Linked DNA regions of Homo sapiens. The protein of the gene in region 1 purifies or fractionates together with the protein of each later gene. This does not show direct contact. Each region holds a gene or a part of one and is shown in the gene's direction. Other genes may lie near its edges.

Region 1 (5,392 bases):
GTTAACGAAAAGAGGCACCTAGAAACCTCAGGGTTGTTGGGGGAGGTATGGGTGTGTACGCACAGCTCTCTGGTGTGTTGTGTGTCCATTGCTAAGAGTCGAGCATGTGCCTGTGTGTTTTGTGTGTTACTTCTGGGAGTTGTCTACCAGCCTCGGCAAAGCGGATCTGGGTTGCATATGTAACTGAGTGCATTATGCACTTCTGTGTGCTGTGCGCACACCTGGGTGGTACTGTATGCATCCGCCTCGGCATCGTTTCCCTGGCCCGCTGCCCAGAGATGCCCCAAACCCCCGTCCCAACATCGTGCCTCTCAGCCCACCTCATAATGACGCCAGTCATTTGGGAAATGAGGAAGGGGGGGTGTGCAGAGGGAGGCCTTAAGGTCAATCGGTCACCCTGAGTCTGCGGGCTTCCTGTGCCTGTCGGGAACTGGGAACCACCACCGCCCCAGCAGCCCCTCCGGGAATGCCATCTCTCTACCTTGTCAGCGAGAGGGAGGGCCACCAGAGGGGCACTGTGCAGCTGTGCTGTGGGGGTGGGGGTGGAGGGAGCGGGGAGCCTAGGGCCGTCCAACCTGGTTTCCTCTACCCCATCCAGGAGCGGGGGAGACTTGAGGTATCCCTCTCGCCTGAATGTGTGACTGTATGTGTGTTGGGGTGGGAGTGCCCAGGAATGTTTTCTGCAAACTGAGTTGTGGGTGTCTCTGGTTGTGTGTAGCCTCTCTGTATTGTATATGTGGCAAGGCATGTTGTGTGTGTGTCTAGATATACTTTTTGTATGCCCAGGAATGTGGCGTGGGTCTCTTACGGGTCCCAGTGGTGATGTGAATACCTAGAAGTGCATACACCTCTGTGTGTTGTGTAGGGCCTTATTTGCTGTGCATTTGCCTAGGGGTGTTTTATGTGTGCCTGTGTGTTGAGTATGTGCCCGGTTCTGTGGAGTGTGCCTGTGGAGTTGTGTGTCTCTTGATTGGACGGGTAATCTTTTGTGTTGTGTGTGTTCCCCTGATGGTGATGTGGGTTTGGGTGAGGGGAGGGAACCTGGGTGTGTGCCCAAGTATTGATTGTGTGCCTAAGGGTGTCCAGTGTGTGCTGCCCTGGAGTGCTGGCTGCTGACCCACGCTATGGGCACCTGGCTGGCTGAATGACTGTGTGGGTGTCTGTGCTGCTCCAGAGCTCATGTGCTTTGAGCCTGTGTTGGCTGTCAGTCTCAATGTCACTGGCATCTCTGGGTTTGGCGATGTACATCTGAGTTCCAAGGGCTCATGCCTCTCAATAGTTTATGTGTGCAGGTGAGGCTTACATACAAGGTTTGGCTGAGGGGTTCAGTCACTACATGCTCACCACCACTCCCCACCCCCCCCACCCCCACACACACGCACTGGCACACACTTGCCTCACTATCATCCATCCACTGTAAAAACAAACTTTCTTTTTACTGGAACAGTCCCCCACGCTCATACCATGCCTCTGCCCGGGAAAGCAGGGGCGGGACGTCTGGAACTTGTTGGTGGGGTGGAGTGAGGGACAGACAGACAGGGCTCTGGGTTCAATTCTGGGCCCGGAGGTGGAGACACTGTGTGACCCCCAGCTGCTGCCTGCCTGTCTCTGACCTGTGTGTCCTGGGAAGTGACTCATAATGCAGTTCCCACTGGCTGGGATCCCCTCAGTGCCGCCCCACCCCTGGAGGTCACCCTTTCTGCCCTGAGCATGTCTCCTCTGCCTTTTCCCCACCAGCTCAGCAGTACAACGTACCCCGTGGTTGTGAAGATGGGGCACGCACACTCTGGGATGGGCAAGGTGAGTCTCTGGCTGGGCTGTGCATAGGTAGATGTGTATTTGTGCAATGCACACCAGTCATTCTGTGTGATCGCGTCTCCTGGGGTGTCGTTATCTATCAGGTTGGTGCAAAAGTAATTGCGGGTTTTGCCAGTTCTTATGGTAAAAACCACAATTACTTTTGCACCAACCTAATAGATTTTTGTTTTCTCACATTCAGCTGACCTCATCGACCCCTTTTTCCTCCTGCATTCAGCCAATTTTGTGTGTCCTGTTATTTTGCTTGTCTCCAGCATCGTGTCTGTGTGTACATGCATGCCTGTGCCGAACACACATGATGTGGTGTGATCTTTTATGTTCCAAAGTCTTGGGGTCCTGTGTGCTTTACATCCATCTGATTTTGTCTCTGTGTACGTAGAAAGTAGACTTGTAATTTGTGTCCGAGTTTCTGTATCTTAGCATGTTGTGTGTACAATTGATTTTGTGTCTGGATGCCTATATTAGTATATTGTACATACACAGTTTTTTCACAGCTTTAGTGAGAGATAGTTCACACACCCTACAACTCACCCATTTAAAGTAGACAATCCAATACATTTTGGTATGCTCAGTGTTCTACACACCCAACTTTGTGCCTGTGTGCTCACATACAAAACAGGAGACCCATGATCGTGCCTGCTTGAGCGCCTTGGCATGTCCACCTAATTTTTGTGTACTCGCCTCACCTGTGTGTCATGTATACATGCTCCCCCAGGCACCCCCACTCCCCACAGCTGCCCTATCCTGACCAGGCCCTGATCCTTGCCCGCACTTCCACAGGTCAAGGTTGACAACCAGCATGACTTCCAGGACATCGCAAGTGTCGTGGCACTGACCAAGACGTATGCCACTGCCGAGCCCTTCATCGATGCCAAATATGACGTGCGTGTCCAGAAGATTGGGCAGAACTACAAGGCCTACATGTGAGTGGAGAGACCAAAGCCCTGGAAGGGGTCCCCTGCCTTGCCTCATGCAGCTGAGGCACCCCTGAGCTTCTGTCCCCTTGTCCCCCAGGAGGACGTCAGTGTCAGGGAACTGGAAGACCAATACTGGCTCTGCGATGCTGGAGCAAATTGCCATGTCTGACAGGTGGGCAGCCCGAACTCAGGGTGTGAGGGGAAGCGGGGGTGGGAGCACGACAGCTCAGGTGAGAGACTGACAGGCTTCCCCACCCTTTGTCTTGGCAGATACAAGCTGTGGGTGGACACGTGCTCAGAGATTTTTGGGGGACTGGACATCTGCGCAGTGGAAGCGCTACATGGCAAGGACGGAAGGGATCACATCATTGAGGTATGAGCACCCAGGGGTAGGTGGGGTAGAGGGAGGAACAGATGCCAGGCAGCAGCAGTGCAAACTGAAGCACTCCATGGCACAGAGGTCCTCAGCCAACAGCAATGTGCTTAGTACACTGTAAGGTGCCTGACGAACTTTCGAAGGGGCCATCCCTTGCAATGGCAGAACACTAGACTGAACTTGCACGTCCCTGGTGACTAGCAAAACCCTTATTAGATTGTTTAGTGCTCTGCGAATCGAGACATCTTGGTGAATGGCGAGGCACTTAGTAACCTTTAAAGTATTCTGCGAACTGGACCGACAGCAAAGCATTTTGGAAAGGACAAAGCACCTAGAAAACCGTGAAGCAGGGATCGGCAAACATTTTCTGTAAAGGAGCAGACGGTACATATTTTAGGCTTTGTAGGCCACGTAGCCTCTGCCGTAACTACTCAACTCTGCAAAAGCAGCCATAGACGATATGTTAAAAAAATAAGTGTGGCTGTGTTCCAATAAAACTTTGTTTATGGACATTGAAATTTAAATTTCATGCCATTTTCGCATGTTATAAAATCTTTCGATTTTTTTCAACTGTTACAAAATTTAAAGACCCATCCTTAGCTCTGGGTCATACAGAACCAGGTGGTCGGCCAGGTTGGGCCCATGGGCCCTAATTTGCTGAGCCCTGCTCTGAAGCACCTTCTAAGCTGTAAGGTACCTTGGAACAGACAAGCCTTCCTCACCGTGCACAATCAGTGCCTCAGACACTGGGGCTCAGCGGCGGCCATGCCCTTGGCCAACTGAAAGCACGGTGTTACTGCCGCCTCAGGTGCGAGGCCTGCCTCTCCCCTCACGGATCCTTTCCTTCCCCCAGGTGGTGGGTTCCTCCATGCCGCTCATTGGTGACCACCAGGATGAAGACAAACAGCTCATCGTAGAGCTCGTGGTCAACAAGATGGCTCAGGCCCTGCCCCGGCAGCGACAGCGGGATGCCTCCCCTGGCAGGGGCTCCCATGGCCAGGTCAGGCCCCTGGCGCTGAGCTAGTGGCTTGAGCTAGTGTGGGGAGGCCGGCCCTGGGTCATGCTGTGCCATGAAGCTGATAATCTGTAGGCTCACAGCATCACCTTTGCACACATGTGGCTGCGATTGCCAATTGTTTAAAACATTGATAAGCAGCTGCTGCCCTGACTTCCCTGAGCACCTCCCTGCCCCGCCCCTGGGAACAGGTCCCCCACCCCACAACCCAGAGTACCCTCAGCTCAGCCACAAGTGGGGCAACACCCAGCGCACAGGGAACCTGTGTCATCACTGGCTGATGCTCCACTGGCTGGTAACTATTTTTAACCTCTCCTGCTCCATTCCTCTGCCGCAGACTCCGTCCCCAGGGGCCCTGCCCTTGGGCCGCCAGACCTCCCAGCAGCCCGCAGGGCCCCCGGCTCAGCAGCGACCCCCACCACAGGGTAAGCGAGAGGCTGGCGGTCGCAGTCCCCTCCCTCAGCCCGCCATCTCTTACCCGCTCACTCTCACGTGTGCTCTTTCTCTCCCTCTGTCCCCCAGGCGGCCCTCCACAGCCGGGTCCAGGCCCCCAGCGCCAGGGACCCCCATTGCAGCAGCGCCCGCCCCCGCAGGGCCAGCAGCACCTTTCAGGCCTTGGACCCCCAGCTGGCAGCCCCCTGCCCCAGCGCCTTCCAAGTCCCACCTCAGCGCCCCAGCAGCCCGCGTCCCAGGCCGCGCCGCCGACCCAGGGTCAAGGCCGCCAATCCCGGCCAGTGGCGGGAGGCCCCGGGGCGCCTCCAGCAGCCCGCCCGCCCGCCTCTCCGTCTCCCCAGCGCCAGGCGGGCCCCCCACAGGCTACCCGTCAGACATCCGTCTCTGGCCCGGCTCCGCCAAAGGCCTCTGGGGCCCCACCGGGCGGGCAGCAGCGCCAGGGCCCGCCCCAGAAACCCCCAGGCCCAGCCGGCCCCACACGCCAGGCCAGCCAGGCGGGTCCCGTGCCCCGCACTGGGCCACCCACCACGCAGCAGCCTCGGCCCAGCGGCCCGGGCCCCGCTGGACGTCCCAAACCACAGCTGGCCCAGAAACCCAGCCAGGACGTGCCGCCACCCGCCACCGCCGCTGCAGGGGGACCTCCGCACCCCCAGCTCAAGTAAGGGGACCCCTACAGCAGCCTTCGCCTTGCTGCTCACAAAGCGGGCCGCTGCCCCAGTAGAGCAGCCCTAGCTCCCTTGCTCCTCAGACCCAGGTCCTATGCAGGGGTCCCACGAACTCTCTCCAGCCTGAGCCAAGCCCTTCCCCCAAGCT
Region 2 (4,446 bases), on another chromosome or scaffold:
CTGCCTCATCTTCCCTAGTAGCTGAGATTATAGGTGTGTACCACCACGCCCGGCTAATTTTTTTGTATTTTTAGTAGAGACGGGGTTTCACCACGTTGGTCAGGCTGGCCTGGAACTCCTGACTTCAAATGATCCACCTGCCTTGGTTTCCCAAAGTGCTAGGATTACAGGCTGTGCTCAGCCCCCAACCACCTTTTTTTTTTTTTTTTGAGACAAAGTCTCACTGTGTCATCCAAGCTGGAGTGCAGTGGCACAATCATGGCTTGGCTCACTGCAGCCTTGACCTCCCAGGGTTAAGTGATCCTCCTCCCTCTGCCTCCAATATAGCTGGGATTACGGGTGCATGCCACCATGCCCATTTAATTTTAAAATTTTTTGCAGAGATGGAGTCTTACTGTGTTGCCAAGGCTGGTCTTGAACTCCTGGGTTCAAGGGATCTGTTTGCCTTGGCCTCTCAAAATGCTAGGATTGCAGGTGCAAGCCACTGCACCAGCCATCCTTTTTTTTTTTTTTTTTTTTTTTGGAGACAATCTTCCTCTCTCGCCCAGGCTAGAGTGCAGTGACGGAATCTTGGCTCACTGCAACCTCTGCCTTTTGGGCTCAGGTGATCCTCCCACCTTAGCCTCCCAAGTAGCTGGGATTACAAAAAAACGTGGTTTTTGGTTTTTGGTTTGTTTTTTTTTTTTTTTTTTGTATTTTTAGTAGAGATAGGGTTTTGCCATGTTGGCCAGCATAAAATATCTTTTTAATGTCAGGCTTTTATAACTTTCTAAGAGGATGTTTTAAATGAAATTGTCTTACATCCTGTATTGTACTTTTAACTATTTCAGCTCATTTTAGATGATTTTCAGGTAGTTTGTTCATAAGGCTACAATATCCAGAATAAATTCTATATTCCACAGTTGTGGCTCTTTTGTCTGATGTCCATCAGGAGAATCCAGTGCCCATATTGACCTTGTTAAGAAAACATCACAAGGAAATGGCCACTTTGTCAATCCTGAGATTTAACTTCAGGTACCACTCTTGTCTGTGCTGCTATCTTACACTGGGAGACTGTGACATACTGTCTCACTCTTAATGTCTTTACTAGTCAATGATGAATCTGGTCGAGATTCTGAAGTCAGTGCCAGGGAGCACATGAGTTCCAGCAGCTCCCTCCAGTCCCGGGAGGAGAAGCAAGAGCCTGTTGTGGTAAGGCCCTATCCACAGGTGCAGATGTTGTCGACACACCATGCTGTCGCATCAGCCACACCTGTTGCAGTGACAGCCCCGCCAGCACACCTGACGCCAGCAGTGCCACTTTCATTTTCGGAGGGACTTATGAAGGTAATGGAGAGGGTTAAAACTTCACACTGAACCAGAGCTCGAGACTGGCTAATGTTTGTAACAATTTGTATAAAATCTTAGGCTGTATCTTAGGATCACATTTCATTTTTTCTTTATGACATATGAGTTCAGCTCCTTTCTGTAACTCAGCCCTGATTTTCTGCAGTGCCTTGTCTTGTGCTGCTGGGCAGTTGGCATCATAGGATCTTTGCTGTTATCCATTTTGATACTGATATTATTCAACTTATGGGCATGTTAAGTTAGATACAATCTTGAAGGGACCCTCTTTTTTTTTTAAGCCAGTCAGATTTAGCAGTGGGGGCTTAATGACATTAATGTTTTGTTTCTGTTTTTATTTGAGACGGAGTCTTTCTCTGTCATCCAGGCTGGAGTGCAGTGGTGCGATCTTGGCTCACTGCAACTTCCACCTCCAAGGTTCAAGCGGTTCTGCAGCCTCAGCCTCCCAAGTAGCTGGTATTACAGGCGCACGTCACTACGCCTGGCTAATTTTTGTATTTTTAGTAGAGATGGCGTTTCACCATGTCGGCCAGGCTGGTCTCAAACTCCTGGCCTCAAGTGGTCTGCCCGCCTTAGCTTCCCAGATTGCTGGGATTACAGGCGTGAGCCACTGTGCCCAGCTGACAGTAATGTTATAAGTTCAGATAACCCAGTACCATGGGACCAAGTGGAGTGGCACTCTTCTTTAAGGTTTGTTTTAATAACTGGTTAATTTGGGGGTTTCTGAGAATATTGCCTGTGTATTACCTTGGGGTTGTGTTTCAGTTACTGGGAGTTTTGTTCAATCCACCCAAACTTGGGAGGCAGCATCATGTAGAAGAAAGGGTGTGGGCTGTGAGCCATACAGCTCTGGGCTTTATTCCCAGTTCTACTTCTTACTGTGTGTGTGGCTTTGAGCAAGTCAGTTAGCCTTGCTTTGTATGTTTCTTTATCTGTGAAATAGAAATGCTAGTACTTCAGTGGAAACACTGTGATGATAATAGATAAAATGTATAAAGCTTACGGCATCTTTCCTGGCACTTTCCAGGTTCGATTTGTGCACTCTTAATTGTGGATTGAAATGCATCACCAGTATGAGGCCATTGATATGTTTTGTGTGGTTTTCTGTTTGCAGCCGCCCCCGAAGCCCACCATGCCTAGCCGTCCCATTGCTCCTGCTCCACCTTCTACCCTGTCACTTCCCCCCAAGGTTCCAGGGCAGGTTACCGTTACCATGGAGAGTAGCATCCCTCAAGCTTCAGCCATTCCTGTGGCAACAATCAGTGGACAACAGGTTTTTCTTCCTTTTAATTTGCTGATTTTCAAACTGAAATGCCAAACTGTTGATCATGATTTATTGAATGCTAGCAGTACATTAGTCACGGTAATAAAAAAAGATCAAACAGTCACTGATACCTGCAAGTGAAGATAGTAGGTTTGAGAGAGAAGGATAACTGTAAAGGGAGTAGAAGCCAGTGTCCATAGTGGTCATTTAGCTAGAATTTATTGAGCAGCTACTAGATGCTCGATTCGACCCTAGTGTGATATATAAATCTAGATAAAACAGTCCGTGTCCTTGAGGAGTCCGGAGTCCGGTTCGTGTTTGGTTTTAGCGTCAAGAACTGCCTTCCGGGGGTAGGCAGTGCTGCTCTGTGGTTTCTCTGAGGAGAGCAGATGTGCATCTCTTGGGATAGGTTACCTCAAGCAGCTCTCTAGTTCCAAACTTTTTTTTTTTTTTTTTTGAGACAGAATCTCACGGTGTCACCCAAGCTGGAGTGTAGTGGTGCAGTCTTGGCTCACAGCAACGTCCACGTCCCGTGTTCGAGCCATTCTCTTGCCTCAGCCTCCCGAGTAGCTAGGATTACAAGCGGGCACCACCACCCCCAGCTAATTTTTTTATTTTAATAGAGACGGGGTTTCACCATGTTGGCCAGGCTGGTCTCCAACTCCTGACCTCAAATGATCTGCCCGCCTCGGCCTCCCAAAGTGCTGGGATTACAGGCATGAGCCACCGCACCCAGCCTTAGTTGCGAACATTTATTCTGAAGTCTTCTGTTTTAAGGTTTTTTTGTGAAATTTTGCAATCCTACTCTGCTGTGTACCTGATTAATTAAATATTTTACATTTTTTACCTGGGGAAAAAAACTAAATCTAAAAACTTTCCCTTCACATTTTCAAGAAAAATTTATATCCCAAAGAGGTGTACTGTGTTTTTTCCTTTTGTCATACTGCTGAGTACTCTCAGAAGTACCAGAACCCTTAGCTGAGAAGCCCTGAACTCTGTGGTTTGGGAGAATGTAAGGGACATTTCAGGGTTGAGCTGAAGAACTGGTAGGGAGCACCTGTTGGATACCAACTGACATTTACTTAGAAACAAAAAAGCTTAAAGAATGGATGGATGCAGTGGTATGTAAAGGAAATAGTGAGAATGGGAAAAAAAATAAGCATTTGGCCAGAACAGGGAAAACAAGTGTGAAAGGTAATATCGCAGATGAGAGTTTCTAAACGTAGATATCGAAGTATATTATCTGTAATTATGTGGGCCTGCAGCAGTTGTGGGGTCCTCATACTTCTCACATGCCTGTTAGCACAGTTCATTGTACGGTATGGCATGTAAAAGTAGCTCAAGCTGAATGTCCTTAGCCCTTTCTCTTGGGATACTCACTATCTAAAAAACAACCTGACCCACATTTGGAGGCAGGTGACTTCCTAGAGGCAATGGCTAAGAGCAAACATGTAAAAATAACGTTCTATCCTCTTTCTTTCAGGGCCATCCCAGTAACCTGCATCACATCATGACTACAAATGTGCAAATGTCTATCATCCGCAGCAATGCTCCTGGGCCCCCTCTTCACATTGGAGCTTCTCATTTACCTCGAGGTAACGACTTGCAAGTTTTGTTCAAACTCTCAAAATGTAGTAGTAGATATACATTTGGTAAAATACGTAACACAGAATGTATCTAGAATCAGCTTGTTAAAGTTGCAGAACAACAGTCTGCAGAACCGTGAACCAAATAAACCTCTTTTATTTAAAAAGAAAAAAAGGCCAGGTGCTGCGGTTCATGTCTATAAACCCAACACTTTGGGAGGCTGAGGTGGTAGGTTCACTTGAGTCCAGGAA
Region 3 (4,446 bases), on another chromosome or scaffold:
GATTTGGCCCGTGGGCCCTAACTTCCCGAAAGCCCCTGGTTAATGTAGCCTGCCCCTTGTTTCCCACTCTATATAACTATAGGACTCCAGCCCGGCACGGTGGCTTACGCCTGTCATCCCAGCACTTTGGGAGGCCGAGGCGGGCGGATCACCTGAGGTCAGGAGTTCGAAACCAGCCTGACCAACATGGAGAAACCCCGTCTCTACTAAAAATACAAAATTAGCCTGGCGTGGTGGTGCATGCCTGTAATCCCAGCTACTTGGGAGGCCGAGGGAGGAGAATTGCTTGAAATCTGGGAGGCAGAGGTTGTGGTGAGCCGAGATCATGCCATTGCACTCCAGCCTGGGCAACAAGAGCGAAACTCTATCTCAAAAACAGCAAGAAGAAAAAACTACAGGACTCCCACCACCCCACCTGGTGATGCTCATGAACATTCCAAGAGAGAAGGTCCTACAGACCAGAGCTACTCAACGTGTGCTCTGTGAACCAGCAGCTTCAGCATCACCTGAAGGCTGGCTGGAAATGCAGAATCAGCTGGCCACGATGGCTCACGCCTGTAATACCAGCACTTTGGGAGGCCAAGGCAGGTGGATCTCTTGAGGTGAGGAGTTCGAGACCAGCCTGGCCAACATGGTGAAACCCTATCTCTACTAAAAATACAAAAAATTAGCTGGGCGTGGTGGCATGCACCTGTAATCCCAGCTGCTTGGGAGGCTGAGGCAGCAGAATTACTTGAACCAGGAGGCAGAGGTTGCAGTGAGCTGAGATGGCACCACTGCACTCCAGCCAAGGTGACAGAGTGAAACTCTGTCTCAAAAAAAAAAAAGAAAGAAAGAAATGCAGAATCAGTGACCCCATTTCAGACCAACTGAATTAGAATCCCTGAGGGTAGGGCCCAGCAATCCATTTTAACAAGGTTTCTGCATATTCTGACTCTGGGGGAAGTTTCAGAAGCTCTGTCCTGGACCACACCTTGTAAAGTGCTGATTTGGGAACACTGAATGCTACATGGGAGTGTCAGAACAGTTCATCCATGTCAGTTAACATGAATTGAACCCTTACTAGGGGTCAGACCCTTTGCTAATAAGCACTGGTGATTTGAGATAATTAATTAGATACTGTTAGGCTCTTAATAGACTGGGAGTTTGTCTTACAATCAGAGCCTCGGGGAATAGTTTTGAGTGGCTTTTCTTCCTAATTTCTTCTGCTTCCTAGTTTCCTCTTTCTACCTGCTCTGCAACACACAAGATGGCAGTTTATTGTGCTAATATGAGGGATGTATTGCAGGCTGCCTTGATCATAAATGCCACTTCACTACTAACGTCCTTTCAGCTACTGAAATTACTATTAATAAACATCCTTATGCCTCTTCAGCTGCTGTCTTTTAGAATGCTAACATGCATGAGTTTGGGGTTTATAGGAACAATTTATTAAACACTAGCAGTAAACATCCCAACAGAAGATCTGGAGGTACGCTCAGCGCCCACTCTCCAGCCGTTCTTATTAGGAGAGGGGGAATTGCTTTTTCAGCTTTGAAATGCTGTGTGTTTGAGATCCACCAGATTCATCAGCCCTCCTCCCAAATCACAGACGTATCTCCATGTTTTAGAGCAGGACAAAGGTGTGGGAGTTCCTGGGGGAACCGTGAAAGTGATGAAACCAAGGGTATCTGCCACATGGCTTCTCCGCCATCGCACCAGCTGCCCATCAGCCAGGCCTGGATAGGCTGCTGTCAGCTTGGAGCCAGGGCGCCCTACAGCTGTTCTTCACATGCTGAGAATAACAACTTTGAGAGGAGATTGCCAAGGAAACACAGGAAACTTGAGTATGTGTGAGAGAGAGGGAGAGCGAGAGAGAGAGAGAGAAGAGAGAGAGCATGCACAGAAACATTCATCAGCAAATAGACCTGAAGGAGTGGGACAGAGCAATAGCACTACAAGTCTGAAAGCACATGGACCCCTGCCTTCTAATAAACTGGCCTGTGAAAAGGAAAGGTCAATGGCTTGCTTAGGCCGAAGATACACATTTCCCCCCCAGGAACCCAGCAGCAAAATATAAAGATGGAGCGTGGGGCCAGAAGGCACTCTTGTTTGTCTCCTCGTGGTACTCCTGTGAGAGGTGCTGCTTGGAGACTGGAGGCTCAGGCACTCTGCTGGTTTCCCTGGTTTCAAGCTTCCATGGGTGCTCAGCACCACAGCAACATGTCTTGTGCCTAGCCGTTAGTAGAGGAAAGCTGATTAACAAATACCGGGTTTGTTCCACTCTTAGCCAAGGGTGTAGGGCTGTCCTGAATTAGTGAGGCTTTCTGAATATTAAGCTCCACATCCTTTTTTACAAAAAATGTTGGCCAGAACTTTTCTGTAATTTATTCCCCTCAACAACCCCATGAGATTGGCATTGTTTGTCCTGTTGAGAAAACTAAAGCTCAGAGATGGTGATGAACTTACCCAGACTCACCCAGCTTCTGAGCGCCAGAGCCAGCGGTCCAGCTGGGTCTTTCTGACATCAATGCCTTTATCCACCCACTCCACTGAACTATGGTCCATAGTCTACTCAACTTCCCCACGGGTCCACTGCTTTATTCTGGAGGGTAGATCCCCGGTCACTTGGGAATACTAAAATTTCATTTTTGTGCATCTTAAGATTCTGGAGTGACTTGGTGTAAATTCCTTCCAGTGTCTGTTTTCTAGATCCTAATTTGTAAAATGGAGACATGGAAATAAAGTCTCATGTATTTAAATAAAACACAGTGTTCACATCTCTACATCATCTCACGAGCACATGTTCTAGTGGCCAGAACACGCATTCGAAAATTAGCAGGCTCATCGTAAGATGCTCTGTCAGTTATAAAATGACTGCCCATAAAGCTAACCTCACATAAACTTACTCCATTATTTGTTTAATGCCAGTGGTAGAATAAGGCAACCCTGAAGTTTTGTTATTTCTTTTTTTACTCAGATTCCATATTTGTTGCTTTGCCCGGCAATCACTGGGTAGAGAACGGTGAAACCTGTTATCTCCAAAGAAGTTTCACTTTAGGATTCCTTCTAAGAACCCTAAAGAGTATGATTTCTCCTTTTTCACAAGAGCAATAAATTTGGAAAGTGATATTAATATGTACTAAAATTCCATCCTTGTTGAGAAAGCAATAGAATCGTGGACCTGGAGGGTGAGATGGCAGAGCCTCCTCCCCCAGGATCAGATCTAGGACCTGCCTCTGGGAACTTTTGTTCCCTTGCCTCCCAATGAGTATGTTCCTGATTTTTTTTTTCATACAGAATTTTCATTTTTATTTTTCCGAAAAGTGATTCTCATTCTCATGCAAATAATAATAATAATAAACATGGTAGTGCCCCAAGGCCCCAAATCTAATTTCCTCTCCCAGCTTCGGTTTTCAATAGAAAGACAAACAAAAATATGTTTTTTGGTTAGGAAATCATGCTCATATGCAATGTTTCTGTTTCATTTTAAGTTTCTTCAGACATTTACTAGTTAGTGTAACACAGGCTGCTATAACAAAACAACCCTCACATTTTCCATAGCATAATAGAAATATATTGTTTGCTCACGTAAGAGTTCAGGTGTTACTGGCCAGGAGTCATTTTTCTCCATGCAGGGATATGGAGGGCCCAAGTTCCTTCTGTCTCATGGTCTCATGGCTTAACCATCCTTTAAGACTGTATTTCTGGCAGAAGGAGAAACAGAGGGAGGAGAATACCTGCTTCTGAACTGCCTTAGACTGACAGGGACACACTTTGTTCTACTACCACTCATGGACTGTCTCTAGCCACAGAGCACCACTTCCTTGCAATGGGAATTAGAAATGTAATTCCTGGCTGCACAGCCATTTCCCAGAGATCATGCTCTACCATGCAACAGTGAGGTTAAAGTGCACAGTTGACCATCTCCGCTACAAGACAAGAGCCCATGCCTTCTTCAAATGTGCTACTCACAGAGAATTTTTCATTCTATCAGATACCTACCCCATCGGGCCCTTTGCCCCCTTCCCTTCGATGGCCTGGGGACATGGCTTCCTCAGAAAGGCCTGTTGCAAACCCATGGGCACCCATGATACCAGACATGTCCCCTAGTGTAATTATCATCATCCTGAATCATCTAATTCCCTCTTTTGCTTGCATCTCCCCAATTAGACTGAATTCTGTAAAGGCAGGGAATTTGCCTATCTTGTCCATCACTGTATCCCTAGTGCCTAACACTGCCTGGCATATTACAGGTGCTCAATAAATATTTGAGAAGGAAGGAGGAAGGAGGGCTCTCTCCGGAATAGACCCAGTCCTTGTACCTGTCATTTGTACCATGTGGGATTTCAAGAGAGTAGCCAAGAAATGGACTGGTCACCTTTCAGGACCAAGGACCCACCCTCTTTGGAGTGATAGCAGCTCACCCTCACACAAGCCCTTTTGGCAACCTCTGATGATGACTGA
Region 4 (4,005 bases), on another chromosome or scaffold:
GTCCCCTGTTTTAAATACAAGAGTTACACTATTACTAGAGGTGTTGGTGTACAGTTTTATCTGATTTGTTCTGTTTAAGACTAATTTTTATAGACTTTCTAATGTTTTAAATAATGGTGCTTCAATTTTAGGTGGTTATGAATAAATTTGAATTTTGCTTTTAATAGCAAAGATGTGCAGTGAACTAGAATATATTTTTACATCCCTGAGAGATTCATTTAGTAGAAAATTCCAAGTATCCTGACAAGCACTCTTTAGCTGGCTAGCTATGGGATGATGTAGAAAAGCATTCAAGAGCTAGTTTTTGTTAAGTCCTGTATCAAGATTAACCCAGCTGTGTCAGTTTATAAATGTATTTGTGTATAGGGTGTGTAGTATATATGGCAAGGGTTTTTTCCCCCCACTTAAGTGATTATTTTTGTGTCACATCTAGGAAAACCGGCAGCATGTTTCTATCTATAGCCAGCTTCTTCGACTGTATAAAAGTATTCTCTCCAGCTACGTATATACACACATACATATATATCATAGCAATTCCTTGTGGTTTATAACTTGCAAATACTGCTATCAGTTTATAGGTAAAGAAACAGTGTGTTAAATGACTTATCCAGGGAGGGTCCTGTGGCTTCATGTTTATGGAGTTGCTAGGTCTCTGCCTCATGGTCCAGTGCCTGTTAAGCCACTGTGTTCATTCTAATAGGCATAATGAATTGTTAAAGAATTTACTAAAATCTCTTCCACCAAACTTTGAAAAATAATGAAGCCGCCCCCACTTTAGAGGCTCTGTATGAAAAAATGCTGTGGAGACAGAGCCCTCCTGGCTCCCTAGCTGATCCTGGAGATGCAGCAATAGATGAATGGGTTATCTCTGAATTTGTAAGAGATAATTCACATGAGGATTAAGATAAAATGGGAAGTAAAATCTAACAAACACAAAGATAGCTCCCAGGCACTGCTTTGTGTAGTTTGACAGCATTGTGGTTGTAGCAGCAAAGGACTTAAAGTGATAGTTTTTAAACCATATTCTGTCCCTAAGTAATAAAAAATCTAGGAAGTTACTAAAATACCAGATTTGTTCTGCTCTGCCTCATCTAGAATCAACGTCTAACTAACTTAAATGAAGTATAATAAATGAGTTCATATGAAAAGGCTTCCTCTATGGACACTTAGATATATTGTAACTATTGAAGTTACCTGGGATGTGGGGGTGGTGGGAGGAGGACCTGCCTCCCCAGGACATCTATGACTAAGGCCTGGCTTTAGTTATGGAGAGAGACGTAGAAGTTGAATTTTACACCCAAAATTGATGTGACTGAAGAGGAACTGATTGTTGCTAACCAGCTCACAAGAATCCAGTATTGAGACCAGTTCACTAGAAGAAACAAACATTTCTGCCATGCAGACCAAAAAGTTATTAGTTGGTGAATATGTATTTTCTCTTTGGAAGGTCTTTAAGGGGAGCAAACCAGTTTTAATCAATCAGATTGCTTGGTAAGTTTGGAATCTGCAATCAGTTGGTCTTAAAAAAAAAAAAACTTTATTTTGGAAATTTAAAGACATACACAAAAGAGGAACAATATAATTAACCTCTGTTAACTCATCACCAACAAGACTCATGACCACTTTTATACTTCATGAGTGATTGTATTTGTATCCACTGTTTTCTATTATTTTCGAGCAAGTCTCAGACACACCATTTAATCTGTAAATAATTCAGCATGTATCTCTAAAAGACAAAGACCTCTTAAATAACAGTTCATTAGTATAAAACAAATTGGGTAAACTTTTGTTGGTCATCAAACTATATTAGCACTGGTCCAATAGTTTAATTTTCATTGAGCCTTTCAAGAGGACCGACCAGTCTGCTGCTCAAGACATCCTCTCCTCTGGAATGTAGAGATAATACATATCATGCTCCTTTTTGTTAAAACGTTTTTTTTTCCCCTTCAAACACAGTCCATTCATTTTTCAGTTTGGGTTGAAACATCCTTTTCTTGATCTTGAGCTTATAATAACCTAGTCATATTGCTCAGCTCAGATATTTTTACTCCCTCTCCTTAGGCATTCTGGTTCCTTAAATATAGTTAGTGTCACAGAGGATAAATAACCAACCTTATTTCTAAGGTCTGAGAACACTTGGACCACATATTGGTTGAGCTCAGCCACCTTCTGATTAAAGTTTTCAGACTTGTAAGAACTGAAAATTTTTATGGTGGAAGTTCTCTGAGCCCTCATCCATTCTGTTTTTAAAAATGCATTGCAGATGGGCTATGTGAATATGTTTTTAAACATCTGATATGTGCATGAAACAAAAAACACTTGAAGTTATTATGTATACAATTCTGTGGGATGGGACTTCATGCAGGATTGGTTTTCAAGTTTGATTTCCTGAGGGATTTTTTAGTTGTTTGTGAAAGAACCCCAGGTCTACTTTTGAAATTTTGTATTATAATTGTAATGTTGCCCATGGTTAAAAAAAAAAAGTGTTCAGTGATCTATGTCTCCTACTACTCCTATTTCTCTGTTTTTCCTCTGCAGGAGCTTGCTGCTGTTAACAGTTATTCTTCCAAGTTGTTTTCTTTGTGGGGAGATGGGAGGTGGGAGGAAATATAAACATATATGTATAGATCTTTCAAAATATATGACGGTATACCCGTATGTTCTGAGTCTTGCTGTTTTTACCTGGTAATATTTAGAAACATTTATTTTGAGATAAAGGAGAGCACTTTTAAGTTGAACCTGTAGTTTTAAAAAGTACATTTCAAGTAAGCCAAAGCAGAGAAGTAAATGTATTTTTCATTGTTGTATCAGAATTTTGAATTTACTATTTTAAAAATTCAAGAGTTTTGTAGCTGATCTATTTCTTCCCCTCAGCCATCCCAAATAGGTCATTTGTCAACAGATTTAAGAATGTTTAGAAACAACAACTTTGGGAAACGGGAAACAATTTGGTATAAGTGGGTGTGCCATAACCTCTCTCGTAGCCATTCATTCCCGGATACATACCCTAGAGAAACTCTTACACATGCGTACCAGGGGATGGATTTAAGCATTTGTGTGTAATAGGAAGAAAAGAAGAAAAAACCCGGGAAGATCCCAAGTGTCCACCAACAGTGTGTTGGATAAATACTGTGGTATATTCCAACAGTGGAATTCCACAGAAGTGAAACTGAACTGCAGCTGTGTATGTGAACATGGACAAAACTCAACAATAGAAGGATCAAAAAAAGCAAGTCACAGAAGAATACATCACTATGGTTCCATTTCAATGAAAGTCAAAAACAGGCTGTCAAATACATGATAAAAGGAAACGATTAAGACAAAATTTAATGTTAGCCGTTTTGATGGAGGGAGAGGTGATCATGAGGGCACAGGGGTCTTCAGAAGAACTGGTGAGGGTCTGTTTCTGAAGCCTGTGGGCATTTCCTTTTTTAATCTGTATGTTTATGTGCTTTTGTATGTATGATATTTCTTAATAAAATTTAAAAAGAAGAATGGGAAAAAAGTCTTGGTGTAGGTAGTTACTAATATATAAGCTGTAGTGTATTTCGTAAAATTAACCATCAGTCAGTGACAAATTTAAAGATGCTGTTTCTTGAGTGCCCAATTTAAGGTTTTATTTTGTTTGAGACAGGGTCTCTGTCTTGTCACCCAGGCTGGAGTGCAGTGGCACGAGCTCAGCTCACTGCATCTTTCGCCTCCTGGGTTCAAGCCATTCTCGTGCCTCAGCCTCCCAAGTAGCTGGGATTACAGCTTCGCACCACCACACCTGGCTCATTTTTTTGTATTTTTAGTAGAGTGTTTCACCATGTTGTCCAGGCTGGTCTCAAAACTCCTGACCTCAAATGATCAGGCCCACCCTGGCCTCCCAAAGTGCTGGGATTACAGGTATGAGCCACCGCGCCCAGTCTTCAAATTGAGGTCTTAATTGTAACTCTTAAAAAGCTAGAAACGGCGACAAGAGCAAGACTCCGTCTCAAAAAAAAAAAAAAAAAAAAAAAAAAA

What was found. Proteins that work in one complex are often made in the same cells at the same time.
Region 2: the proteins of SYN1 (region 1) and SAP130 purify together in Homo sapiens (affinity purification with mass spectrometry, with the first as the bait; one large-scale study listed by BioGRID). This does not show direct contact.
Region 3: the proteins of SYN1 (region 1) and SNAP25 purify together in Homo sapiens (co-immunoprecipitation; one study listed by IntAct). This does not show direct contact.
Region 4: the proteins of SYN1 (region 1) and LUC7L3 purify together in Homo sapiens (affinity purification with mass spectrometry, with the first as the bait; one large-scale study listed by BioGRID). This does not show direct contact.

Annotation. Positions count from the first base shown.
Region 1 is NC_000023.11:47,573,847-47,579,238, reverse strand, and holds part of SYN1 (synapsin-1), read left to right. Parts: intron 1-1,737; coding exon 1,738-1,800; intron 1,801-2,598; coding exon 2,599-2,741; intron 2,742-2,832; coding exon 2,833-2,907; intron 2,908-3,005; coding exon 3,006-3,108; intron 3,109-3,964; coding exon 3,965-4,111; intron 4,112-4,463; coding exon 4,464-4,551; intron 4,552-4,648; coding exon 4,649-5,237; intron 5,238-5,392. UniProt on the Homo sapiens protein: Neuronal phosphoprotein that coats synaptic vesicles, and binds to the cytoskeleton. Acts as a regulator of synaptic vesicles trafficking, involved in the control of neurotransmitter release at the pre-synaptic terminal.
Region 2 is NC_000002.12:128,014,560-128,019,005, reverse strand, and holds part of SAP130 (histone deacetylase complex subunit SAP130), read left to right. Parts: intron 1-1,090; coding exon 1,091-1,326; intron 1,327-2,458; coding exon 2,459-2,617; intron 2,618-4,091; coding exon 4,092-4,203; intron 4,204-4,446. UniProt on the Homo sapiens protein: Acts as a transcriptional repressor. May function in the assembly and/or enzymatic activity of the mSin3A corepressor complex or in mediating interactions between the complex and other regulatory complexes.
Region 3 is NC_000020.11:10,269,884-10,274,329, forward strand, and holds part of SNAP25 (synaptosomal-associated protein 25), read left to right. Parts: intron 1-4,446.
Region 4 is NC_000017.11:50,752,715-50,756,719, forward strand, and holds the end of LUC7L3 (luc7-like protein 3), read left to right. Parts: 3' UTR 1-3,505; downstream 3,506-4,005. UniProt on the Homo sapiens protein: Binds cAMP regulatory element DNA sequence. May play a role in RNA splicing.